Linked DNA regions of Homo sapiens: region 2 is linked to region 1. Evidence: fine-mapped expression QTL. Tissue or cell type: whole blood. Region 1 holds a variant in brackets; the other region holds the start of a gene. All regions are shown on one strand. Distances are between the middles of the regions.

Evidence for each region. PIP is the estimated chance that this variant, and not a neighbour inherited with it, causes the effect.
Region 2: it holds the start of ALCAM, and the variant in region 1 is fine-mapped to the expression of ALCAM in whole blood (INTERVAL, PIP above 0.99).

The regions. Positions count from the first base shown.
Region 1 is chr3:105,505,888-105,514,885 of GRCh38, forward strand. The region is part of intron 1 of ALCAM (activated leukocyte cell adhesion molecule); the gene reads left to right. Among named protein-coding and RNA genes, the nearest start is that of ALCAM, 140 kb to the left of the region's middle. The variant C/T (reference allele first, on the strand shown) is at 3,855.
Region 2 is chr3:105,362,405-105,371,402 of GRCh38, forward strand. It overlaps ALCAM (activated leukocyte cell adhesion molecule), which reads left to right and starts at 4,505. Exons shown (of 16, transcript NM_001627.4): 1 at 4,505-5,077. The coding sequence starts at 5,005. RefSeq lists silencers at 4,450-4,549, 4,880-4,999 and enhancers at 6,030-6,189, 6,526-7,026, 7,027-7,527.

The DNA of each region.
Region 1 (8,998 bases):
TCATTATAAATATTCTCATAGCTACAAAGGCTTTAGAACAAATAGAAAATTTCCATAACTTTATCTTTCTGAAGTATAATTGTGTTGAAGTATGATCAGCGATTTTTATTGATCTTATGTGTTTACCTTGGTGACTGTTAAATAAGATTTTGTATTGGAAATTTTCTTTGTTGAACAGCTCCCTGTTTTTAAAATTAGAAACACAAATTTATGGATTTCTACATAACAAACTCTCTAAAATGATACTCTTTACCTAAGAAGTATGTAATATATGCCTGTTAATTAAACATGTACTAATAGTTATATTTGCATGTTGAGGCTTCCTGCAATTCACAAAACATAAAGAAAATGTTTTAAATTGATTCTAGGGGTGGTGTTCTTATTAGCTGTTGTAAATACACAGAGAGGTAGAATTGTAGCTGAAGAACACACACTTATAGCATATTTTTGTAGGACTCAGGTGGGAATGAACTTGAAAATTACCATTGGATTTTCAGACAGTAATACAAAGTATTTCAGTCTTTTCCATGTGGTTTGTTTGTTTGGTTTCCAATTAATTACTTCCTGGGGGAAGCATTGGGAGTTGTTTCAGTTATAGATTCATAACAAAATGAGATTCATAAACTAAATACATGATATAATCTGAAGCCCTGCTAGGACTCTTACAGCTCGTCTTTATAACCTAGTATTCCTTTAATGAGTAGGAACAGTGAACTTTTTTTTAAACCCAAATGACACTATTGTCTTTAAAAGCTGTTAAAAATAGCAGAGCCAAAGACGTAATATTATAATATTCAGTTAGGGGAATTTTGAGTGTCATTATCTCCCTAAGCAGTAACCATGAACAAATTATCAAAGCCATTGTCTCTTTTAAAATGGAAAGATGAACCAAATGTATTAGCACCTCAGTGGGATTGGGAATATGTGAAAAACATAATCATAAAACAGCAATTGCTAAGCCTCTACTCAAGACACTCTTGTTCATCAGAGGTTTTGGTGCTGTTGGAAAGTCAGCACCTGCTGAAATCTGCCTGGGGATTCAGCTGCCTAGACTGGAATCACCTCTGCTAATGGATGCCAAAGCTTTGCCCTTGAAGATGTTTGTGTCCTTCCCTCTCCCTATACCAGTGGAATTTAGATGAGACTGTCTAAATGTAGAATATATTGCATAGGCTGAAGAAATTGTGTGTATCACTTGTTTTTAATTAATAGACTATTTTTATCTGTTCTTAGTTTATGGAAAAATTTGAGTGGAAAGTAAAGAGCTCCTATATAGGCCCGCAATTCCCTGCCTCCCCACCCCCTTGCCCCTAGTTTCCCCTATTATTAACATCTTTGCATTAGTGTGGTACATTTGTTGCAATTGGTGAGCCGATGTTGATACATTATTATTGACTATAGTCCCTAGCTTACATTAGATTTTCCTGTTGTGTTGTACATTTTATGGGTTTCGACAAACACTTAATAATGTTTATTCATTATCATATCAGAATAATTTCACTGCCCTAAAAATGTCCTGTTCTCCGTCTATTCATTCTTTCCTCCCTCCCTTGAGACCCTGGCAACCACTGGTCTCTTTACTATCTCCATAGTTTTGCCTTTTCCAGAATGGCATATAGTTGGAATCATACAGTATTTAGCCTTTTCAGACTGGCTTCTTTTACTTCGCAGTATGCATTTCAGGTCCCTTCGTGTTTTTTTCATGGCTTGCTGGCTCATTTCTTTTTATTGCTAAATAATATTTCATTGTCTGGATTACCACAATTTTTTCATTCATCTGTTGAAGGACATCTTGTCCAAGTTTTAGAAGTTATAAGTAAAGCTTGTATAAACATTCTTGTTCAGGTTTTTGTGTGGACATAAACTTGCAACTCATTTGAAAAGTCGTTAATTGTGAAAAGTGTTTTTGACAGAGAGGAAAGACACAGGTCTTTAAGTTAGAAAGACTTTAATCTCAACCTTGCCATTTTAGTCATTCAGTACGTTTTTATTGGAGGTCTACTGTGCTACCCCTGCCGTTTTTGGTGTTAGAAATGCATATAGGGCTCCTCTGCCTGTAACCTGAGTGCCCCACCTACATTAAAAAGCCTCATTAGACTTCTGGTTCCTGATCTGAAAGATGCCTATCTTCTTGAATATTCATGATTTTCTATTTTATTTTGAAAATTAGAACAGCTGCCACGGACAGGACTTGTATTTCCTGGGAGCAAGTGCCAAATTGCTACATAGCATCCCATTGAGAAAGAAGTGATAAAATGTGTTAGTTCATTTTCTTTCTAGTCCTTCTAACCTATATGTTTTTTAAAATATTTGTCTAAATATGAAAAGCATTTTAATACTTTCCAAAACAATATTCTTGAATTATCCACAATATAAAATGAAATAAGGACATGGAATCATTTTTTGTATATCTAATAGTGATGAGAATTGGACTTGAGCTGAGAATTCATTTTGAGCTCTATCTCCATCACATACTGGCTTCGTGATATTGGCTTATTCTCTTGACTTTGCAGGGAGAACAGTTTCCTATTGGTAAAATGAAGGATAATAATATTTGTTCATCATACAGGTTTCTTTGCTTATCATACAGGACTTTTGTGAAGCCCAAATGCAAAAATGTACAATGTATATAAAAGAATGTTGCAAACTATAAAACACCATAAAAACATTCAGTATTATTACCAATTGCTTTAATGTATTTCTAGGTCTATTTAATCTTTTATTGTATATATTTAATCTATACAACATGAGGTTTTGATATACATATGCCTTGTGAAATGATGACTACAGTTAAGCAAATCAACATATCACTCTCCTCACATAGTTATCATTTTTTGTGTGTGATGAGAGTACCTGAAATCCACTCTCTTAGAAAATTTCTACTATACAGTACACTATTATTAACCACAGTCATCATGCTGTACTTTACATTTCTAGTTGTGTCCTATACAGTTGTAACTTTGTAGCCTTTGACCAACATCTCCCCACTTCTGACATCTTCCCACCCCTGGTAATCACCATCCACTCTCTGTTTCTGTGTATTTGCCTTTTCTAGATTCCACATATAAGTATGATTATGTAGCATTTGTCTTTCTTTGGCTTATTTCAATTAGCATAATGTTCTCCAGGTTCCTCTGTGTTGTCACAAATGGCAGGGTCTCCTTTGTTGAGGCTGAGTAATATTTTATTGTGTTTGTATCTATATAGACAATTTATTTATCCTTTCATCCATAAATAGACACTTTGGTTGTGTCCATATCTTGGCTATTGTGAATAATGCTGCAGTGAACAGGGGAGTACAGGCATCTCAGTATTGATTCCTTTCTTTTAGGCATATACCCAGAAGTGGGATTGCTGGATTATCTGGTAGTTCTATTTTAACTTTTTGAGGAACCTTCACACCGTTTTTCATAATTGCTGTACCAATTTACATTGCCACCAAGAGCGTACAAGGATTTCCTTTTCTCTACATCCTCATCAATACTTGGTATCTCTTGTTTTTTCAATAAGAACCATCTTAACAGGCATGAGATGATATGTCATTGTGATTTTGATTTAATTTCCCTAATGATGAGTGATGTTGAGTACCTTTTCATATATCTATTGGCTAATTATATGTCTTCTTTGGAAAAATGCCTATTCAGGTCATGTGCCTGTTTTTTTTATCTGCTTCTCTGTGGGTTTTGTTTTGTTTACTACTAAGTTTTATGAATTCCTTACATATTTTGGATATCAACCCTTTATCAGGTATATGGTTTGCAAATATTTTCTCCCTATTCATAGGCTGACTTTTTATTTTGCTGGTTGTTTCCTCTGCTGTGTAGAAGCTTTTTAGTTTAATATAGTCTTACCTG[C/T]GTATTTTAATTTTGTTGCCTGTGCTTTTGGTGTCTTATCCAAAAAAATTATTGCCAAGTCCAATGTCAAAGAGCTTTTCCCCTATGCATTCTTCTAAAAGCTTTAAGGTTTGTCTTACATTTAAGTCTTTAATCAATGTTAAACTCATTTTTTGTATATTTTTTATTTTTAATTTAACTAACCCCTTACTAAATTGGGGTGGGATTTTTTCATCACATCAGTACTGAAATCTTTATTTTCTGGAATTTCATAGTCTACTAATGTCAGTGGGTCAATACGGTTATGATCTGCCTAATTTCCTCCAGATGTTAGGATCCTCTGAAAAGCAGATGTCAAAATGGATTTAACATACAAAGAATGTATTAGGAAAAACACCTATGCAAGAAAAAATGAGGAAGAAGATGGGGGTGGTCGGTGTGGAGAATAAGCATACCGCAGAGTAAAGATGGTCCCAAGTGAAAGGGAGAGGATATGAAGGTTGGGTGGAAGCGTTCTAGACTGTCATGCAGTCTAAGGAAGGTTCATCAGGGAATCGGGGTATCCGTGAGCTATAATCAGCCCTCATAGGAGTCTCTTGTAACCAAGAAACTTGCCTGTCTTAGTATACTTGTTGCATTCAATTATTAGCTGGGAACAGCTGGTAAAAGTGTAACCTTAGCACAAATCTGGTAATAGACAGAATGTGGCAGTTGGGTAAGTTATGTTCCCAGCAGTTGGAGATCTATGAGGAACATTTTCATGTCCACTAGACTTCACAGAGACTTTTTTCCCTAAATAATAAACAAAAGTGATGAACCACTTATTTAATAATGTTTTACTAAGGATGTGAAGAGGAGAAGCAGAGACAAGTGAGACAGAATGCAAATATTACCAAGTGTGGGAAACCATCTGAGAGCAGGCACATTCCCAGAAGAGGGGTTCATGTCAGGGTTTAGTAACACTGTCCTCATGTTCGAGTTCCTGTGTAATCAGTCTACAGGTGCCATTGACCTGCTGTAAGAACTTGTTTTCCTTATCCAGTGTTTTTGTTTATGTTTTACCACCTTGTTTGTGATAGCTAGTCTTCCAAAAATTCTTCTGGGCGGTGCATTTAACCATTTCCTAAATTGCAGAATAAATATAAGACATTAAAAAACTACATTTGGCCTCTGGGATATAAAATGAAGTTTTCAAAGAGTTAAAATCTTTGGGAGTACTGGAAAATTTCAAAACGGGAGGCACCTTCAGATGCAGATTTCATACCCTTAGAAATGATAAAACTACCTTTCAATACAGCTTCCTATATTTCTCATCTCTACTCATTGCCTTCCTAAATTATCTTGTTCTTTTTCCCATCTTTCCTCCCACTCTTCAATTAAGAAGAATGACTGTCAGGAAAAATGGAACACATGAAAAGTTATTGTTAAAATATTAATAGATGTCAGTATGACTCTCTAAGTTCATGCATTCCAGAGTTACCCCACTGGGCTACCATTGTGGGCAAGCTACAATGAGCATGACTCTCCATTCTCACTCAGTCCTTGAGGTGACACACCATCTCTTAAGGCAGAAAGATGATTTTATCTTCAGATAGCAGATTATACTGATTTCCCAAGTGTATGTGACTATTTGTTTTATTTTTAATTTCCTCTTTCCTGTGCTTTTAGTCTCCTTCAAAAATTTATCTTGGACAAACATTCCATCTCTCCTTTCTCCTCAAAGCTAGAAAACTAGATCTTATAGTAAGCTGACTTCAGTTCTTAAAGAAAGGACAAAATGCCATAGAAAGCCGTAATATTCTTCCTATGACCTTAACTTATATTGCAACCCCTCCAGGGAGCTGTCAATTAAAAGCATGGAATTTACACAAATCTAAGTCTCGGAAATCAGCCAGCAAGCTGCACCAAATATGTGGAAAAATCTATTAAATAGCTTTTTAACCTTTACTACTTACCATGTTTGATTGTACAAATCTATATCCTCAGGAGACATAGGCAATGCTAATTGTGATTCATGTGAAGAAAAGAGCAAAAAGGTATTTCAACTGATATAAACATTTTTCAGTATGAGGTTAGATACTTAATGTGGAATATACCAGAAGCTAGCATACCGGACTAGATCACTCAACCAATTCAGAAGCAGAAATCTACTACTCTGCTCATTTAGTAGCCCTAATAATCCACTTTTTTATCCCTGGTAATTCACTACCTCAATTATAACACAGCATTTTCTAAGTCTGTAATTCTAATACTATTGAATATTACTTTAAAAGCTAAAGCAATACAGTTCATGTAAGCTATTATTAACAGATGCTTTCTGTGAAAACAATGATGATCTTATTGGCTAAAAGTCTTTGTGATATATTTTTTCTAAAGCATTTTGAGGGATATTAAAGCATTAGAAACTTTTGGTTTTGGAGTTTGGTAGTGTTATCAAAGATAGCTTTGATTTTCTCAAATCAAGAGATCTTTTTGTTGTCATGACATTAAACTATTTGCAGAAAACAAATTTAATAATGTCACAATAACTGTGAGTTCTTTCTGAAGACAGACTTCATTCTAAACTCCAAATTTTCCATTACTTCAGATGATTCAATTAAGATCCTTTGGGAAGCATTATGCCTGCCTTTCTGTTGAAATGTTTTTACGAATGCAGTACACTCTTCTTCTTGCTAAAATAGGTGAATTGTATTCATAATTTCAATACAACTTATGTGGTAAAATGCACAGGAAAGTGTAATTTTTCTCCATTTAAGTAGAACTGATACTCTGAAATAGTTAAACTTAGATTTTCATGCTCAGAAAATGTACAGAGCAATAGAATCTAAATATATTCATCTGTCCTTTGCATTACTTAGCCTGAATTAATATAACTAATATTTCAAATATAAGTTTCTACATCTCCAGTTAAGCTAGTTCCCAAATGAAGTCAACAGGATCAGAATCTAGACTAAATTGAAGAAAATTTAGTTCTTTAGCAAGAATTAAATTGAGAAAATGAATCAGGGGAGAGGGGAGCAGAAGGAAAATCATACTTTGCTAGTTATTTTTATTGTATTGACTAATTATCTGAGTGAAGGACTCTACTTATATGAGCACCTTAAGGACTCAGCCTCAAATCCTAATTAGAAGTATAATAGTAGGAAATAGTCAACTTTCGGAACTTCAGTTAACACAAATTATTAATTACATACATGTTTTTGAGCAAAATATATAGTATAAAGAAAAACATACTTAAACATTTCTCCTGTTTAGTCCTCCTTACTATGAAAATCTACTTTAAAACAAAATAGAGGCGATTGTTCTTTTTACACACAAAATCTAGATTTTTTTGGTTCATTGTATTCTTTCTGCCTATCCCCCCCAAAGCACCCCCTTCCCACGCATACAGAGCATGAAGTATTTTTAAATGTTTTTTATTTAAGTTTATCACCACTTAAGGGCCTGTGCCTTACTTAGCATGTTGGCATAGACCCCATAGCCTGGCCAAAAATACTCATCATTTAGGAATGATGACTTGGTAACACAGGGGTTTCATTGTGGACAAGTATGTGGAATCTCAGTCTCCTGCTCAGAAAAAAGAATGTGAGGATCATTGCCAAGGAAACCCTAAAGCCCAGTGCTTTTAGTGACATTTCAAATGTAAGTCTAGATCTGTGTACTTTTTTCCATCTATATTATATTCCATTAAAATGTTTTTAAAGCAAAAATAGCTTTTGGGGGGACAATTTTAAGAGGGGACAATTTTGGGGGAACACTAATCTCAAATCACCACAGTGCTCCCCTCTCACTACCCTGTAGCTGTATTCCCTAAAATTTCAAAGAATAGTATAGTAGATGCCTTAAAGTTCATTCCTGGATCTCAAGTTAAGAAATGCTAATGAGTGCAGTAGAATCTGCATATATTCTGATTTAAAATTCATGAGGCAACTCAAAAAATAAAAATAAGGTTTCACAACTTCAGTCAATTCTGTTGCTTTTTGATCATTTCTAAATAAGATTTTTGCTTATAATTTAAAAATGGCCCCAAAAGGAATCCAAATGCTAGTGTTGATGCTGAAAGTAAAGAGAAAATAGAGATCTAACATTTTATTGCATTTTATTAGAGAAATTTTATGTGCGCTTATGAATTTGGGAAAACTGCCAGTCTTAGGACATGTTCCTTATGAAGATCAAAGATCTACTCTGTAGAAATTGTTATAATAAAAATTGAGTTTGCCCAAAGAGAGAAAACCAAGCGTCACTCAGTGCTTCTCATGCACTGTGCTATTGAGGTAGTTCCTATCTTCCCATCTATAGAAACCTCAATTCAGTGATGAGGTCAAATGAAATTTCCTCCAAGAAGCTTTTACCAATATCCTCAATCTCATTGCTGGGATTCCTTTCTATACAGTCCCACAGCATTTGGTTTACCAACCCAAAACCTCACACTGATTTCATCTTGTTTCTTAAGGAAAAGGCCTCTGTATTTTACTTATACATTTTCTTCACAAAGCACACCTAAAACTTGCCCTGTAGCAGGTGTCCAATAAATATTTGATGCATGATTGAATGATTCGATGATTTTTGAGATAGGCCTTAAAGGAAACATAGGAATCTGAACAGAGTAGATGGGGCCAAGGAACCATAAAATTAGGTAGAGATGGGGTAAAGCCTAAACTAATTGGGAGAAACTGTGACGTATCCAGCCCCATAGATCATTTCATGCTTGTAGAATAACAAACTATCAGGCTAAGGTAAATTAAGAAGGTAATTTTCTGCACAGCAATGTAAATATCGATAGTGTATTTTTAAAACTTTATTGTTTGTGTAATTCTTTTCTATGACATAATATGGATTATTATATTGGCTTATTGTTTAATAAAAAGATAAATATTTAGAGCATTAAATTATATCAAACTTGGAAGTAAAATAAAGAGTACCTATCTTAAAACATAATCCTGGGTACTACTAGTAGTTTATAATTTAGTAACATGGGCATTTTCCCTCTGAAGATTATTCCACAGTGGCAAGTGGTGGGGGGAGGAGGAAGGAATAATTACTATTTATCTTATTTGTAGGCCTCACTCAATTATATCTACATTATAATGTATAACACTTGAGAAAGGCAATGCAGAAAATGAATTTTGAATAAACATATCCCTACTTCAGATGCAGCAGACCCA
Region 2 (8,998 bases), 140 kb before region 1:
GTAAGTTTCATAGTCAAATAGCGTAGCTAAATTCTTTCTTCATTCCTCATGTCTGAGACAGGAAGGAAAATGACTAAGTGGATTTCTAGTTCAACTGAAATAGCTATGTATTTCTTTTTGTACCCAGACTGAACATTCTGTGAAATAAGAACATAATGTTTATCATAGACTTTGAAAGTTTTTACTCTCCTGAGCTTCAGTGATATGTCTTTATTAGCTGGCATTATTGAAAAGGTGAGTTGCAGAATTGTATTAATTCATTGACAGATGATACTGTTAACAACTGAAATTAAACAATAAAATTCAATGGACTTGGGAAGAGATATACCCAGAGGTCCTCCATGTGTATTTAATACAATAACTTTGGAAATCATTTACTTAAAAACAACTTGGAGTCTAGAATAAAACAGAATTTTATATTATACAGATGTAATCTCTGTGCCTCTTTAAGATTGTGTTTCTTCCTAGACTTAATATAAATCCCACTTAGGCCCTTATTTCAATCTTTGTCATCAGTATATTAGCCTAAGCCCTAGCTTGATCACCTAGAACCTTTACTAATCAGGTTTCTGTGCTCAGCATGGGCCACTTTGTTTTATTCTAATTGATGGCATATAATTTTAGTACAGCCTTTCTTCTGTAGATTGTTTCCTCACTTTATACTTCATAGTTATCACCTTGTTGACTAGGACTTGACTCATTCTTTTTGCCTTTCCTAAACCTTAGTCTGCCTAGACCAATCATTGAAGACCCAATGGAAACCCCTTTCATCTTCTCATATCATGAACCCTTGTAAGATGGTTTGAAGGCTTATATTCCATTAGGTATTTTTCTCACCACTTATCATCCATTCACAAAAATTTATCAAGTGTCCAATCTATTTTTAAGTATGGCTGAACATGCATTCACCGTAGGTGACGCTTGAAGGAGAGAAGAGTGAATCAGATTTGTTGCATGCTCTGGAACTGCATACAATTTTGTTCAAGGAGTAGGAAGGCAAACAAAACACAATGGTATACAGTGGTAGGAACAAATGTTCTCAGCTTCCAAAACTATCTTTGTTGAAATTTCATCTCCAGTGGAAATTTTGGCGGTGCTAATCAGGGGAGAAAAACTACTTCCATTCTTCAAAGGCACACACAATTGACTCGGCTATGTTGTCACATACTGATGGGATTAATATTTTAGTACAGGGAAGGGGTCCTGGCCTGAGCCTTGGGAATCCTGAGTCCTTATCTCAACAGACCGTAAGTAGGAAACTTGCCTCCGGTACCATGTCACTGCTTTTGAGCATATCATCCTGATTGATGATGAATTCCTTTATACTTAAAATACAAAGCTCTTCTCATGTCCCAGGTAACGTGAAATTTTTTCCCCCTGGATAAATGTTATTCATTTTTCCCTTTCAGCAAGATGTACCCTTATGATTCTCTGATGCATGACTAAACTATACAATAAATATTATTGGAATACTATGTATTCTCAATTGTAACAAAAGTGACTGTGATCTACATGTAGCTGGAAACACTCTTCCTCTCAAGAATTAGGTAAGATGGATCCAATCCCACATTGACTAGATTTTGAAAGATTAATTCGATTACATTACTTTGTGGAGCTTACATTTTTATGTTTATTTCTAACTCTGAGCTCTTGCTTATGCTACATTATTTCAGTTTAGAAGTGGTCTTGTCATCTCATATGCACTGTATCTGGCCTACGCAGATAGGGTGCGCTGCTTTATTAATAAATTTCCTTAATGAAAATGTGTGTGAAAGGATGAGAGAACTTATGTTTAAATCAATCGCCCCACCAAAAAAACCATACATTTATTGCTACGCATTCTTGATAAGCAAAGTGGATAGTGATGAGCAAAGTAGATAGGAATTCAGTTCAAGAATCAGAATGCCTGGGTAGAACCCTGGCTTTACCATTGCTATGAATCATTGTGTGACCTTGGAAAAGTTGCTTCGAGTCTCTGGGTTTCAGTTTCTTCATGAGTAAAATGAGGATGAAAATAGCAACTCCTTCAATAAATTTTTATGAGGGGAATACATCTATTAATTCATATAAATTGCTTAGAATATTCTAACATGTAAGTGTTGCTAATTAATAGATCTAAAGACCTTTGAACATTTCTAAACTCATGCTTTGTATTGTTGCCTTCGTCCCCACTCCCAGGCCAAATTTCTATTTTCATGGTTATTATTTTGTTTAATATAGAGCCGTTTCACCATTTTTTTTTAATGACCAATAGCCTTTGGAGTTACTAGTCCAAGTGGCTTATCAAGGCATTTTCCTAAACTAGGACACATTCCTTTCTAAAAACAATTCTGGAAGCAGTGGACTACACATTCAAATATATATTATACATATGCCCATATATATATGCATGTGTTTGTGTATAAGTATAATATGTACATATTTGTATAGTCAGTTGCTCCCAGAATTCCACGTGTGTGTTTGTGTGTTTGATCTCATTTGATCTTCACAGCAATCCCATGAGGCTAGCACTATTATCACTTTTTACAAGAAAGGAGACTGAAGCTTAAAGAGGTTAAGTGAGTTGACCAAGATCATACAGTTAGTGTCAGAGCCCAAATCAGTCTTCCTTTTGCAAATCTACCTTTAAGCAATTATGCTGTATTAACTCCCATCGTAAAATAGAGGAGATCAGATAGAGCGTTCGCGGACCTAGGTTAAATATATTGTCAGGTCGATTTATTCTAATACACCCCACTTACAACCACAGTGAAAAAGAAAACAATTCCCTAAAGCAATTCTACAGGAGTCCATGGAAATGCTAGCATTTCAGCCAAGCTTAGCTCAAGGAATATAGAGTTAAAAGGCATTTGCCTCCTAGCGATAGCCTTCCTGTTGATTCATAAGATGCAAATGAAATGTTAATGTTTAAACCAAGTGGGAGAAACTACTTATTTTGAGAGGAAAAAAATATGGTATAAAAGCTCTACTCTAGAATATTGTTAATGTAAGGAGAACTGGAAGAACAGGACAAGCAGGCTTTTGAGAAAAATCACAGCTGAAGATAGGGCTTAATAGTTTAGAGCACTAAAAGATAAACAATTTTAAAAATCAGTGTGTGAGTGTGTGTGTGTGTGTGTGTGTCTGTGTGTTGCGAGTCTCCAATCTCGCTGGTAACTCGCAGTTTTCTGATGAAAGTGCAGTATGTAACGATTACTAGTTGGCATCCTCTGCTGGAGACCAGTCTCACAAAAGGGTGACCCTGTGATGCACGAAAGGCTATTTAATGCCCCAGCGAAGTGCTTCAGGGACCAAGATTTTATTATTCTTTGGTGATGAGAGTTGTGATCCTGCATCCCTGATTTAGAGCCACTTAGGGCTCCGACAGCTCCACCCCGGTGTTCTAGAGGAAAATCTTCCTTCATGCTCTCTGCCTGATTTGAAAGCAACACAGCTTCCCGATGTTCCTCCTGGGAGGTGGTTCAATCTTTAGAAATTGCCTAAGAAGCCTGTCCATCTGCTGGAGTGCCTGGCTTTCGGGAACGGACCAAGACGGACTTGGCTTTTAATCTGAAATAATTTGAGGATTTTCTGTCTATAACTTAAAATCACCGCTTAACTCAAAGTAAAAAAGTGACACGCTCTCTAGAGGGCTTTTGTAGACATTGGGAAAATCCGTATGACGAAGTACGGTTTAGAAATTCCGGATTTAATTTCCCCCGGGAAAAGCAAATATCTTCTGTTGGTACCGGGCAGTCGACTCACGTAGTCTTCCTTTAAAACCAAGTCTATGCCAGCCGGGTGTGAGGGGAGTGGTGGGGGTGAGCAGGGGGAGGAGAGAGATTCGAAAAGTACAGGAGGAATCAGTCCAGTACAGGGGTTGCCCCTGCCAACAAGTAGCTATTCCTGTTAACTCCCAAGAAGCAAGTTTCCACCTTTGCCACTTCCTCCTGCCCTTTCCTTTCCTTTTCCCTTCACTCCCGCTCTTGGACCCAAGGTTCGCTCCCCACCGCCACCGCCCTGCCCCACTATTCTCTTTACAGGACAGAAGGCTGCAGCAGCACGGCGGAGAAAAATCTCTGAGGAATGAGTCAGTGGGATGGGCGTATGGGTGGAGGGAGAGGGCAGTCGATTTTTAAACCTCAGCGAGGGTGGGTGGGCAGTTGGAAGCCAGAGGCCTTATCACTGGGGCGCTGCAACATCACAGAAAGTGTTAGTCCCAGGGCTCTCCCTGGCGCGCGCGGCTCCTGTGCTTGCTTCTTATTGGCGGACCTGGCCCTGGGGGCGGAGCCGCGGTGAAGCACCGCTCATCCGGGCTCCAGGACCGGGGCACGCGGTTCTCCCTGATCCCGGAGCTGGGCTCAGGGCTCGGACTCAGTCCTGCAGCGCCTCTAGGCTGCGGATCCGCGCTTCAACCACCTGCTTTGCGCTGCGTCCGGGGAAGTGGGGAGGAGACGGGAGGGAGGGAGGAGGCGGGGAGAGGAGGAAAGAGGCAGCTTACACACGCCTTCCAGTCCCTCTACTCAGAGCAGCCCGGAGACCGCTGCCGCCGCTGCCGCTGCTACCACCGCTGCCACCTGAGGAGACCCGCCGCCCCCCCGTCGCCGCCTCCTGCGAGTCCTTCTTAGCACCTGGCGTTTCATGCACATTGCCACTGCCATTATTATTATCATTCCAATACAAGGAAAATAAAAGAAGATACCAGCGAAAAGAACCGCTTACACCTTTCCGAATTACTCAAGTGTCTCCTGGAAACAGAGGGTCGTTGTCCCCGGAGGAGCAGCCGAAGGGCCCGTGGGCTGGTGTTGACCGGGAGGGAGGAGGAGTTGGGGGCATTGCGTGGTGGAAAGTTGCGTGCGGCAGAGAACCGAAGGTGCAGCGCCACAGCCCAGGGGACGGTGTGTCTGGGAGAAGACGCTGCCCCTGCGTCGGGACCCGCCAGCGCGCGGGCACCGCGGGGCCCGGGACGACGCCCCCTCCTGCGGCGTGGACTCCGTCAGTGGCCCACCAAGAAGGAGGAGGAATATGGAATCCAAGGGGGCCAGTTCCTGCCGTCTGCTCTTCTGCCTCTTGATCTCCGCCACCGTCTTCAGGCCAGGTGAGCAAGGGCCTGGGAGCAGCCCCAGACAGACGTGGGCCTGGAGCAGTTTCCTAGGTCCCCGTCCCAGCCTCGCACCCCCGAGGCAGTGCGCCCAGGCGCGTGGTGGAGGTAAGGGGACCGCTGTCCTGGCACAGAGCTGTCCCCGGGCTCGGTCACCTGTGCCGCACGTTTGGGCTTGGCTGGTTAGCTCAAGTTTGGGCATCAAGCTGGGGAAACTGGGTGAATCTCCAGGAACTTGGTGCTCCGGGGTGGGCAGGATTCGCCTGACGCTCTCCCCTTGTCCCTGCGGCTCCCAGCTAGGCGGCGGACTCTTGCCCTCTGACAGTTCCTCCTGTCTCTGGGTATCCAAGTCCACGTCACTGCGCCCCGAGCAGTTTTTCTTTCGCTTAGTTCTCGGATGAAATAACTGCCGGCACTTTTTCGTGATAAATCCCCTAGTAACTTCCCCTTGGTGAGCCGAGGAAGGGATGGGAGGGGTAGAGAAGGAGAGGACTTTAATCACCTCCCCCCGCCCCCCTTGCGAAACCTGCTAAAGCTTAAAATCGTGGTTTCAACGTTACCCCCTGCGGTCCCCGTCCATTGTCTGGGCGGGTGGTGAGTGAAAGGGTGACCGCAGGCAGATAACACAGCCAGAACAGGAATTAGTAGGTAGGCCTGGGAGACACCTCAGTGAGAGGTTTGTGAATTTCCAGGACCTGCTCATAGAGCCTCAGTTCTCAGTTCTGTACTGAGTCTTGGAAGAGAGAGAGAGAGAGAGAGAGAGAGAGAGAGAGAGAGAGAAAAGGCAAAATTCCCAACAACTAAAATATCTCTCGGGAAATCCCTTTCCACACCCTCGGGGACGTCCCCTGGCCCTGGTATCCTCAGGCCCGCCTGGCGGCTGACACAAGTTGTTCTAACAGGGTATTCCGTGCGCTCACAGTTGCCTGACAGAGCAGCAGGTTCCTTTGCTCCCCTAAACTGAAAATTTAGGGGATTTTTTTTTCTTTGAAGTTTTTTTTTTCTATCCCTGCGTAGACAGTTGCCAGTTAAACTCCTACTTCCTGGTATTTTGGCCTGTTTGTTCTTAGCTTTTTCTTTAGCTTTTATCAAAGAAAAATCTCACTTCCTTTTATCCGTGCACATCCCTTCAGCTGTCGGCAAGCTCAGGTCACAGAAGAGGTTTGAAAGCCTCTGAATCTCTCCCAGGAACTGGCGGGGAGAGGGGTTTGGGGGCCAGAGCCTGAGGAAGAGATTACAAGTGTTTGCGAGCTGCTGCTGCTGCTGCCGTTGCTGTGTGTGTGGGCGGGAGGAGTGCCCTCTCCAGATCTCTTTATTAAAGTTACATTTCTGGGTGAGGTAATGAGCTCACCTGATGTTTCTGAGGCTGAGGGAAAAAAAAGGCGTCTGCGTTCTCTGACAAATCTCGGGCTCTGGGGCGGGGACTGTGAAACCATAGTTCAACCGGATTTAAAGCAGGTGTCCTAGTGTAACAACGCTGGGGAGGTAGGTGGAAAGGCGAGACCCCCTTGGGCCTGGCACAGTGTGGATTTCACTTTTTCGAGATTCCACTGTCCGATGGAGGAAAGGACACTTTGGAGCCAGGGAATGAGCCAAGAAGGGAGGACAAGGGTGATGTCGGTTTGTAACATGCAAACGTCCACACGCCCACAGTTGGTTTTCCGATTAACCCCCTCGAGACTTGGAGAATGTAATCTCACCCTCGTCCACACCCCTGACACAGGCACATAACCAGTTTCCTTTTCGGTGCCGTCACAGGCGGGCCACGTCGCAGGATAGGTTTTTCTACACATTTAACTGCTAAAAGGGGGAAAGTTCCGCTTTCAGACCTCCTTCACGGTGGTTCTTTTGGCGCCACAGGCTCGTGTGTCCAGGGGGCACCGAGCTGCGCGCTTTCGGCGAGCGGCTAGCCCCGGCTCACCGCAACCAGCCACCGTGAATCTGAGGATCCGATATCGGCCCTGGACCCTCAGATCCGTGGTTTCGGTGAATTACCGAGCTGGCATTGCCGAAATTCTCATTGCAGTATCAGTGTGTTTTGAAAGGAAAGGTTACAGCACTAAAGGCGCCGTGTCTACACTGAGGAAGCAAGTCTTGGACAGTAAGTGCGCCTTCTTCGGAGCCCTCTGCATAGCAGAGCCCGGTGGGGGCGCGGTGCCAAAGGCCGGCTTCATTTGAGCGGGGTAACTGCCTTCCCTGCCGGCCACTCTTCATTTCCGGAGCAGTTTTAATAGTGTATGTCCAGTTGTAGAGGTCAAAAACTCGAGTTTGTGAAACTGCTTCCCCGGGTCTTTCGGCTTGTAGTCGCTACAAAGTCATTGATATATTTTAGGCGTGCCACGTTACCTGTTTTGAAAGGAGGAGAAAAATATATGAACCACGAAAACTGAATTCAGAGATGAAGGCAATGAAGTGTGTGTTCAACATCCGAGATAGCAATATTCTCGTTATTCTTGTAGAAAGAGCGTCAGCCTGTGGTGACATTTTGTATTGCTTAAAAAAAGAATGCTTTTCTGGATTATTTACAAGGAGATGGGGCGCTGCAGTTAACTCTTTCTTCACTTGGGTCATCTGTATGAACCCCTCTATGGGATTTTTCATAACTACTCACTGATCTCACTGATATAAGATTCATTCTAAGACATAAGCACACATAAAGCTTTCTTCAGTGGGATATTATGTTTGAAACATATCAATTGATCTCAACAGGACTTGGGAAAGCATCAACTCAAATAATGTCCTTTCAAAGACTATTGATGTAGGACTATTGAAATTGATTAATTTAAAAACTAAAAACTGTTTAACAGCCAATATATATATATTTTTTCCTTAAGGATTTATTTAATCCAATAGCAATTTACAATTTAATGGAGCATTATTTGCAGTAAATTGCTTTTCTAGGCTTTCTTCAGGACATCTACCTTCAGGCACTTGAGCAAGTCATTTAACCTTTTTGAGCTTCAGTTTTCTCATACAAAATAAAAAGACAGACTAGAGGCCTACTCTCTGAAATGTCTCCCAGCTCAAAAACTCTTTGTTTCTGAAGTCTTAAGGTAAAAAACCAATTTAGGCAGGCAGAGTCATTTTTCAACACTATTTTTCTAAGGATCTCAGTCTAGACAAAATTCATATAAATTGTATTATTAGAAAAGTATCAGTAGACCCCAATTTCTAATTTCCTTTTTTTTTCTACCTTTAAAAATTCATGATAACATCTATGCTTACTCTTTCCAGCCTTAGTAGGGAAAAAAAAAAGCGTGAAGGAGAGAAATTAGCCTTCCACTCTCCTGGGAAAAGAGGACCCAAAAGTAAGAAAGGATAGTAGGCCTCAGAAAGCCCTGCTAGTGTAACTCATCTCTCCTGCAAACCTGTTCCTATATAAACTGCATACATAGTACCTAGAATGAGATGTAAATTATGGTTTATGCTTAAATATTCATATGACAAAGCCTCATATTGTACATCCTAAAGTTGCTCAAAAAGTTGATTTGCAACATGGTTGTAAATGCAAGACAGAAGGAAATAGAAAATACTAATATTTTTCTATTGTTTTAAAACTTGTAGAAATCCAAAATATCTTGTCTTACCAGATTCCAAACCTTTTCTGACTTTGTAAAAAATTCAAACTAGCTTATCTTTTTTAATAGACATTCAGATGAAAATGCATGTCTACCATTGACTTATCAAAAAGAAGAAAATTAATTAAATAGTCTTGTGTTATTAGAAAAATTGTATATTGTAGTCAGTATTCATGTGTTCAGTTTCTAACTATGTCATGTAAGAATGTTGTGACCTTGGGAAAATTATTTTTCTGCTCTTTTTTATTTCCCATCTGTGAATTTCTTTCTGTGCAATGTGTGGTTCTGATTGTGTTGAGATTAGTAATTCCCTTGCTCAGCATTTCAAATTTTTTAAGTA